Homo sapiens: one gene and its partner. The protein of the gene in region 2 purifies or fractionates together with the protein of the main gene of each other region. This does not show direct contact. Each region holds a gene or a part of one and is shown on either strand. Other genes may lie near its edges.

Region 1 (4,453 bases), on a different chromosome or scaffold from region 2:
CCCATGGAGGACGGGGGCTTAACAGCCTTTGAAGAGGACCAGAGATGCCTTTCCCAGAGCCTCCCCTTGCCAGTGTCAGCAGAGGGCCCAGCTGCACAGACCACTGCTGAGCCCAGCAGGTCGTTTTCCTCAGCCCACAGACACCTGAGCAGAAGGAATGGGCTTTCCAGACTCTGCCAGAGCAGGACAGCGCTCTCTGGTAATGACCTTCGACCACTGCAGGCCTTAGCGCGTGGAAATACAAATGTGGAGTTGCTCTGTGTTCTCATGGAAACCCTCTCACCAGGGATTGAAGTCACTCTATTCCTGCAGAGAAAAGTTCGTGGTTTAAGTGCTCGGCTCATGCTGGCAGATGACTCCGGCAGGACCCTTCCTGCTGCTTTTACTCTGCTGTGATTCCCAGGCAGCTGGCGCTTCTTTTCAGGCAGCAGGTGGAACTCACCTTCACATTTCAGGGTCAAGTTACAACAAAATGTTATTTCTTACTTTAGAGTATGTGAGAACGCTGTTCTAGGTTAGGCTATTTTACTTAGGGAATTGCAGCTTTGCTCGTGCAGTTTACTGAGCTAAACGCGGTTTAGCTGGTGGACCAAGAATCATGGGGCAGAAGTCTGTTGGTGCCTCCTATGTCCAGATTCCGTTGGTGCCTCCTTTGTCCAGGCACCCCAAAGGACTGGGCCATGGTGAGGAAGGAAGCGTCACTTGCCTTTCAGGGGCTGTCTGATGGAGGCACTTGGGGAGACAGCAGGCTGTGTGCTTGAAGTTGGGGTAGACCTGGAAAATGGGGAAGTGGGGCATAGAGCTGCGGGAAATGGTGGCTGGGAGTCTGGTCTCCAGGTCAAGGAGCACTTCGACACTGGAGTAGGAGGGTGTTGGAGCTGAGCTTGTGCACTGGAGTGTCTGAGGGTGTAGAGCGGAGGGCCCTGTGGAGAGTGCCCAGGATACTGCAGGGAGGGGTGGGCTGGGAGGCACACAGCGCCCTTGGGAGTGGGCTTCACCCAGGCGCTGATCAGGAATGTTCTCAGTGAGTGTTGACAGGTGTGTTCCTTTTTTGGAGCATCATTCTGGTGGCTGCATGAGGAGCAGGGGTGGGAGCCGGAGGTACAGGGCCTTGAGACATGAGAAGGAGCTGCGCTTGGTGACTGCTGTCTGGGGAAGAGCAGGGGCGAGAGTGGCTGGATGGCCACGTGGTTTCCAGCCTCAGAGAATGGTCGGGGTCAGGCCACTCACTGAGAAAGTCAGGGGTCCTGGCTGGAGGACATGGAGGGGAGGGGATGGGAGAGAAATGGAAGGGTCAGGTCTTGAGTGCTTGGTTTTGAGCACTGGAAGAATGTATCTGGTGTCTCCAGAGATGGGGAAGCAGGCGAGTGGGCCGTGGGAGGTCCAGGCTGGAGGTGCGAGTGTGAGAGTCTTCAGTGCATTTCTAATTAGATGTATTTAAAGCTACCGAGGAATGGGTGAGATGGAGCCAGGGTCACTGAGAGGTGGGAGGTGGGGGAGCCCAGGTGCCCGAGGAGGGTGGTGTGGGAGGAGGGTGAGGCCTGAGGAATGACGGGGCTGAGGGTTTTGGGAGCCATTGGAGGCGTTGCTGAGAGAACGCTGCACAAGGAGCTCTTGAATCGTAGGAACGCTTCCAAGGAGGAGGTGACGGGGCAGCCACCGGAGTGGCCATGGGGTCTTGGAATGACTGACAGAGGACAGAAGGTGGGAAGGAAGGAACCTTTGAGTGTAATTAAGCTTTTTTGTTTTTTGGGACAAGGTCTGACTGTTGCTCAGGCTGGAGTGCAGTGGCGCAGTCATAGCTCGCTGCAGTCTCAAACTCCTGGGCTCAGGCAATCCTCCTGCCTTAGCCTCCTGAGTAGATGGGGCTGCAAGGGCACGCCACTATGCCCAACTGATTTTTACAAATTTTATTTTTAGTAGGGACAGGGTCTCGCTGTGTTGTCCAGGCTGGTCTTGAACTCCTGAACTCAAGCAACCTTCCTGCCTCAGCCTTCCAAAGAACTGGGATTATAGGCACGCCTGGCTTTGAGTGTAATTTAGACACAGAAGTGTTGATCTTATGCTGTTTGTGCTTCCGAGTGGACCTGGTGGTTGCCTAAGTGGATTCTGGGGACCATGTTCAGACACGCAGTGAGAGTGTGTGTTAGCTGTGCAGACTGACTTAATCCTTAGATCTTTTTGCAGGAGTTGAGGGCAAGGGCTGTGTGCTTTGCCTGTTTCAGAAGGTGGACTCTGGCAGCTGTGTGAAGTCTAAAGCTTCGCTTCGCTTCTCTTTTCAGAAGACAGATGGAGCTCCTATTGTCTATCATCACTGGCTGCCCAGAATATTTGTACAAGTAAACTGCACTGCCCTGCTGCCCCTGAGCACACGGACCCGTCCGAACCGCGGGGCAGTGTGTCCTGCTGCTCCCTGCTGCGGGGACTGTCCTCAGGGTGGTCCTCACCTCTGCTTCCGGCCCCTGTGTGCAACCCTAACAAGGCCATCTTCACGGTGGATGCCAAGACCACAGAGGTATTTGCTTCTCTTTTAGATCCAGCTGTGTAGATGTGGATTTGTGGTTTGTGCCTTAAACCTGGGATTTGTGTGTTTTAATGCAATTAGAAAAACATTTGGGCACTTCGGGAGGTGGGAAGTTTGCTTGAGCCCAGGAGTTCAAGACCAGCCTGGGCAACATAGCAAGATCCCATCTCTACAAAGAAATTAGCCAGGTGCGGTGGCACACACCTGTAGTCCCAGCTACCAGGGAGGCTGAGGCAGGAGGATCACTTGAACCCAGGAGTTCAAGGTTGCAGTGAGCTCTGATTGCGCCGCTGCAGTGAGCTCTGATTGCGCCACTGCACTCCAGCCTGGGCAACAGAGTGAGACCCTGTCTGTCAGGAAAAGGCTGGCTTCTGCATGGTCGTCCTGGGCTGTTCTGGGCAGCTGGTGGAGCTGCTGGGGATGTCTGCATCCTTGCTCCTCTTTGTGATTCCTCAGATCCTGGTTGCTAACGACAAAGCTTGCGGGCTCCTGGGGTACAGCAGCCAGGACCTGATTGGCCAGAAGCTCACGCAGTTCTTTCTGAGGTCAGATTCTGATGTGGTGGAGGCCCTCAGCGAGGAGCACATGGAGGCCGACGGCCACGCTGCGGTGGTGTTTGGCACGGTGGTGAGTGGATGCGGGTGCAGCGTTCAGTCTGGCCTCAAGACCAGCAGTGTGTGGCAGGAACAGCTCAGTGTTCCCTACCAGGAGCTCTGCTGGGGGTTGGGTGGCACCAGGACATCTCAGCTTCTTCAGCTGAAAATGTCATCCCAGGCGCCGTTTCCCCGCTTCAGCTGCAGTGGGGGTGGGGGCCCTTTAAGAACGAATCATCGCAGGAATGGACACTGTGGCTGTGGCTGGACTCCTGGGAGGTGTCGTGGGTGGCCCTTGCTTTGTCTGAGGGCTGTAGCTTCACTAATGTTTTGCAGTCCTGCCGGGCAGCACATCAGATGCTCAAGAGTAATATGGTTTTATTGTCTATTGATTTTTACATTCTGTTTGGTGTTTGTGGGAGCGGGCGGGGGTGTTGGCCTGGAAGCATTTCCCTAGACAGTGTTGATTCTCTCACCTGTGCCATGTGTCCAACCTGGATGTTGACAGGTGAGCTGAGTTGGATGTGGAGGACTGAGCCCAAGGCATGGAAAAAGCCCAAGGCATGGCTGATTGTAGGGTTTCCCCTCGTCAGCCGGTCGGGGACTGGGGGAGTAGCGTTGGAGGGCAGTGGAGGTTGGGGTATGATCTGAGGCTCTAGTAGTCATCCAGATCCTCCAGGTTGCCTGTTTCCCACCTAGTGTGTGGCTTTCACACAGAAGACCCCATTGCTTGAACTGAACTGATGTCACAGGCTTAGGACCAATTGTATCAGAAAATCACTGGTTCAAGAAACTGACTACTAAGAAGAAAAAAACTAAGATATTCACCATGTGTTGGTGTCTGTTTCTTTAAGAAATAACAGATACTGCTTTTTTCACCCTGCAATATTACCATGAACTGAGAATGAAATCTACTCTCTTGATAAAACTTGCACTTGGAGATTTTAATGTTCAGTATGGGAAATCTTGTTTGTGCTTTGGTAAATTTCTGAAATGAAAATCAGGTAAGCAGAAGTTGAAAACGTTGCAGTGCCTGGAGTTTGGGCCTCCTGGAGGCAGGTGCCCCACCCATACTGGTCTTTTGGGTTCATGGCATGCAGGTGTGAACCTGTCTGTTTCCACAGGTGGACATCATCAGCCGTAGTGGGGAGAAGATTCCAGTGTCTGTGTGGATGAAGAGGATGCGGCAGGAGCGCCGCCTATGCTGCGTGGTGGTCCTGGAGCCCGTGGAGAGGGTCTCGACCTGGGTCGCTTTCCAGAGCGATGTGAGTGTGCAACTTTGCCTCATGTCTCATGGACGCTGGAGCCGGCGTCGTTCTCCTCTTCAGCAAGTGCT
Region 2 (5,346 bases):
TATTCCAACCGAAATAACAAACATTTGGAGAGGAGGTGGTGTAAATTATTCAACTCGGAAAATATAAATGCAAACATACTAAATAAATTCATTGGGAAATTAGTCCAGTTGATATATGTGGTCATGAATATAAATGAAGACCATGCCTCATGGTTGTTGGTTTTGTCCCAGCCATGTTCCCTTATTCTGTAGGCATGGAACAGGGAGACGGTTGCCTTCATCTCATACATGTTTGCAGAAAGAAAGTGGGCCAAGGAAGTGAGGTAGTGCAGGGGAGAGATGATAATTAACCATGGAATCTGCACTAGGTAAAGAAACATGCAAGAGCATGTCAGGGGTGGTGGCTGTAAAAAAATGATAGCATCAATAAACTGGAAGACCTTATCATATCTGAAGAAATATTGGGGTTATTGAAAAGGTGAACTGAAAGAAGAAAGTAATCAAAGAATGGAAAATTAGAAAAAGCAATTTGAGCAATAGTACAATTATTGGTGATGATGAGGTCTAGAGCATCATTGTCCAATGATTATTTAAATTTAAATAAAATAAAAAATTCAACTCCTCAGTTGCACTAGGCACATTTCAGGTGCACCACAACTATATGTGGCTAGTGGCTACTATGTTGGACAGCATAGAGAGAGATTTCCATCATCACAGAAGTTCCATAGAATAGCATTGTTTTGGTATGACTGTGGGAGTGAATAGCTGAGGAGAAGAGCAGAAAAGGTTTGAGGTTAGAATGGAGGAGATTGTAGGGTCATCTTGACCAATGATAAAATCACCAATAATTGAGATAAGAGTAGGGGTGGGGGTAATATCAGAGGGAGCCCTGTTTGTCACCTGGCCCTTGGGGAGACGAGTTCTAGTGAGGAAATTGTAGAGAAAAGATGAACTTCTGTAAACTTCTGTTTTCCACTAGTCCTTAGGGTCACCACCTAATCATTAGCATGCCTAGCCCCAGCCCCACCTACCAGTAAGGCCAGCCTCTTATCCTTCACCTGGGGCTGCACTACATTGCTCCCAGGAGAATCAGCCAAATATTGCCTTTCCATCTAGGTGCTTGCCAAAGAGGAAACTGAGGCATCCCAAACCCCAGCCGACCTTGATTCTAGGTTGACAGAGCAGGGCCCAATAGTCCATCCATATGTGCAGAGGTGCCCAGAATCTTCAGGAAGATGGAGCCCAACTGCCTCCCAGATCCCCCGGTGAGAAGAAAATAAGGCTGGGGATGGGAACTGGGATTTCTGGCTCTGTCATATATCAGAGCAGACTGGGGCTTCCTATGGCCATTGTCAGTCCAAAACAGGGTCCTTGGACACAGGGGGCAAACCTCACTGAAATTCTTTCTCAGGGAGAAGAGGAGGCAGCAAGGTCCAAGTCTCAAGAATCCCATTAGCTGGGGGAGCCCATGAGACACACCAGACCAGGTTAGACCTTTAATAGGGACAGTAGACACAGTGCCCTTCTTGCCAGCCCTTAGGAGTTGATGATCTCAATGTGGAACTGCAGGTGAGTGGCTGTGACCACACAGTGGCCCTGGAGGAGAGCGCAGGTCTGGCAGTTGTGGCATTGCCAGTGGCCCTGGATGATGTAGATGGCATTGAGCACCTGGCAGTATCGCCAGCGGACACGCCACATACGGACCAAAGACTGGAGCTTGATCACTGCCCTCTCTCTGGTTGCGTAGGCGATCAGAGCTGCCTGCCGTTTCTTCTCCAGCACCCTCGACAGCGTCATCCGCCACCAGCACTGAATTATCCAGGCCCTGAGGGCTGCATGCAGCAGTGTCCTGCGCACCAGGGTGCCCCGCCACCAGGCCTGGATCTTTACAGCTGCTTTTGTTCTTATTCTAAGTTTTTCCTAGGCAGAGACAAGAGCGATCAGTCAGAAAACTTCCTGCCACCAACTTCTAGGATCTTCCTGGAAGGAGCCTGGATTTTCTCTCTCAAAACACAGCCCTTCCTCAGAATTCAGGGAAGTTAGCAGGACACTGACTAGGAGCCATCAGACCTGGTGGTGACCTTCCTCTGCCACTGTGGGCACATCACTTCAATCTTAGAGTCACAGAGTTCTTCTGCAGACTATTTCTGCAGTGCATGGATCAAGGGAAAAACCATTAGTAACTAGAAGGGTGCAATAGGGATGTGTGGGACCTTGTTAGTCACACTCACCTCTTTGGTGCTCACTGGGTTTGGAAAGGCCTCATAACCTTCTGCCTGGTAATTATCTGCTAATTCCAGCCCCAAACCACCACTGGCTGATTTCTGTCTGCTATGACCATATTTTGATACTATGGTAGGTTTTCAATACCCTGACCACATATTCTACTCCAAGTCTTTCCATATTTTGAACAGTCTACTCTCTAATTCCAAGTTCTCACATTCTCACCTCTCAGCCTTATGCATTTCTTGATGGCTTTCATTCTTTTTTTTTTTTTTTTTTTTGAGAAGGAGTCTCGCTCTGTTGCCCAGGCTGGAGTGCAGTGGCGTGATCTTGGCTCACTGCAAGCTCCGCTTCTCGGGTTCACCCATTCTCCTGCCTCAGCCTCCTGAGTAGCATAGCTGGGACTACAGGCACTCACCACCACACCCGGCTAATTTTTTGTATTTTTAGTAGAGATGGGGTTTCACCGTGTTAGCCAGGATGGTCTCAATCTCCTGACCTCATGATCTGCCTGTCTCGGCCTCCCAAGGCTTTCATTCTTTCCAATCACTCTCAATATCTCAGTCAGGCCCAGATCCAGACAGCCCAGACTGAGAAGAGAATGGAGGAAAAATGAGCCAACATTGAGTTGACTCCTAATTAGACCCTGGATTGATAAGAGGCAAAGTCCTACACCTTATGATGTAGTTATAAATGTTCTGGATTTCTCTTAAGTACATGGAATTCTTCTCACCTTGATTTTCTGCTGTTTCTTCTTCTGCAATGTCTTCCATTCAATGCTTTCTTCAACATCCTCAATTATAACCAAAATTAAATTGCCTTTGGTCTGTCATCAGAATTAAATGGGAAGTACATAAATGAGTTAAGACTGTTTCTCTCTATGGCTCTATACAAAGACAATTACTACTTTAACATCCTCTCTTTTCTCAAGTCCTGTAAAGCCCAGGGAGATACCCACCCATTCCTGGTCCACCTAATAGATCTGGCCATGTCTCTTACACAAAATCGAACCCTCATGGCCTGTCCTTAGATGGTTCATTAGCCCTGATTTCTCTGCTTCCCAAGGTCTGGCATGAGTAACGTGAGTGAGGAGAGAGCTCTGAATTCACAATTGCATTATGACATAGGGATTGGGACATCTGCCACAGAGATGTGTCTCTGTCAGAAACAAACTCCAGGGGAACTTGTACTGTAGCAGGATGAGCTGCAGACAAAACCCCTCAGACACTGGGTTAAAGAAGGAAGAGGCTTTATTCCCCCGGGAGCATTGGCCGACTTGCATCTCAAGAACCGAGCTCCCTAAAGAAAGAGTTCCTGGCCCTTTAAAGGGCTTTCAACTCTAAGGGGTCCATGTGAAACCTGGCCCTTTTTAGGGCTTTCAACTCTAAGGGGTCCATGTGAAAGTGTTGTGATAGATTGAGAGCACATGTGGTTAGAGTTGGGGGTGGGGAGGGTTAATCTTTCAATCTCAGGTCTGGTCAGTGGCACCAGTTGGTCTTGCCACTGACTTCATTCCTGTTGTTCTTCAGCTTTTACTTCCTCATTCTCTTCAGAGACAGGAGACAGTAAGAGAAATGGCCTCTCTCCTCAGTACCATGTGTCTGCTTGCCTCCTGTCAGAGATGTGTCAGAGCTGAGGGTGGAAAAATAGAGCACTTGAGTGCCATTCCATAGCAGGGCTCTCCTCATGTGAAGTCCATCCACAGTCCCTTCTCATTATCATCAGCATGGCAAAGCAGGGAGGACCATGACGGTGCATCCCCATATCACTCTCTAGCGTCTGGTGAGATTTAGCACTTCCTCTCTTCCCTTGACTCGGTGCCTCACAAAGCCTTAGGAAACTAGAAAAAGATACACCAGATGAATCTGGAAAGCAGTCAAATAAAGATCAAAACTTAAATTAATGCATAGAAAACAAAGATGGGTAGTGGAAAATAAATTTAAAAGGCAGTATTCTGACAAGACCAGTTTTAAAGATACACAGTTTACCAACCTGGGTAATCAAGAGAATGAAGTGGAATGAAAAAGGTGAAATAGCCACAGGGAAATTTAAATAAATACAAGGAAATATTGATGGTGACAAATTTGAACACTAAGAGAAAATGATTTTCTTTCTCTCTTTTTCTTTTTTGGAGATAGGGTGTCACTCTGTTGTCCAGGCTGGAGTGCAGTGGTGCAACTTTGGCTCACTGCAGGCTTGACCTTCCTGGACTCAGGTGATCCTCCCACCTCAGCCTCCTGAGTAGCTGGGACTACAGGCACACACCACCATGCCTGGCTATTTATTTTTTTCATTTTTTTGTTCTTTTATTTTTTAAAGTATGTATTTATTAAGATATGGGGTCTCACTATGTTGATTGGGCTGGTCTCAAACTCCTGGGCTCAAGTGATTCTCCCACCTCAGCTTCCCAAAGTGCTGGGATTACAGGTGTGAACCACCATACCTGGCCGATTTAAAATTCTAAGAGTTTTATAGCTTTAGCTCTTACATTTAGATCTTTGATCCATTTTAAGTTTTGTGTATGGAGTGAGGCTAGGTTCAAATTCATTCTTTTACATGTGGATGTCGAGTTGTTCTGGCATAATTTGTCAAAAAGACAATTGTTTTCCCATTGAATGGACTTGGCACCCTTGTCAAAACTAAATTGACCATAGATATATGGGTTTCTTTCAGACTCTCTATTCTATTTCACTGACCTATATGTCTGTGTTTGTGCCTGTACCAAACCAGTTTGATTACTGTAGCTTCGTAGTAAGTTTTGAAATCAGGAAGTGTGAGCCCTCCCACTTTGTTTTTCTTTTTCAAGATTGCTTTGGCTATTCTGAATCCCTTGACTTTCCATATGAATTTTAGAACCAGCTTGTCAATTTCTGCAAAAGAAGTCAGCTGAATTCTGATAGGGATTATGCTAAATCTGTAGATCAATTTGGGGAATATTGTCATTTTAGCAATATTAAGTCTTCTAACCTACAGACACAGATGTCTTTATTTAGGTCTTCTTAAACTTCTTTTTTTTTTTTTTTAATTTATTTTTTATTGATCATTCTTGGGTGTTTCTTGGAGAGGGGAATTTGGCAGGGTCATAGGACAATAGTGGAGGGAAGGTCAGCAGATAAACAAGTGAACAAAGGTCTCTGGTTTTCCTAGGCAGAGGACCCTGCGGCCTTCCGCAGTGTTTGTGTC

What was found. Proteins that work in one complex are often made in the same cells at the same time.
Region 1: the proteins of IQCF2 (region 2) and PASK purify together in Homo sapiens (affinity purification with mass spectrometry; one large-scale study listed by BioGRID and IntAct). This does not show direct contact.

The regions. Positions count from the first base shown.
Region 1 is NC_000002.12:241,138,583-241,143,035, reverse strand, and holds part of PASK (PAS domain-containing serine/threonine-protein kinase), read left to right. Parts: coding exon of another isoform or gene 1-3; coding exon 4-199; intron 200-2,282; coding exon 2,283-2,515; intron 2,516-2,980; coding exon 2,981-3,151; intron 3,152-4,241; coding exon 4,242-4,382; intron 4,383-4,453. UniProt on the Homo sapiens protein: Serine/threonine-protein kinase involved in energy homeostasis and protein translation. Phosphorylates EEF1A1, GYS1, PDX1 and RPS6.
Region 2 is NC_000003.12:51,859,501-51,864,846, reverse strand, and holds IQCF2 (IQ domain-containing protein F2), read right to left. Parts: upstream 3,233-5,346; 5' UTR 3,181-3,232; coding exon 3,163-3,180; intron 2,990-3,162; coding exon 2,897-2,989; intron 1,861-2,896; coding exon 1,477-1,860; 3' UTR 1,423-1,476; downstream 1-1,422.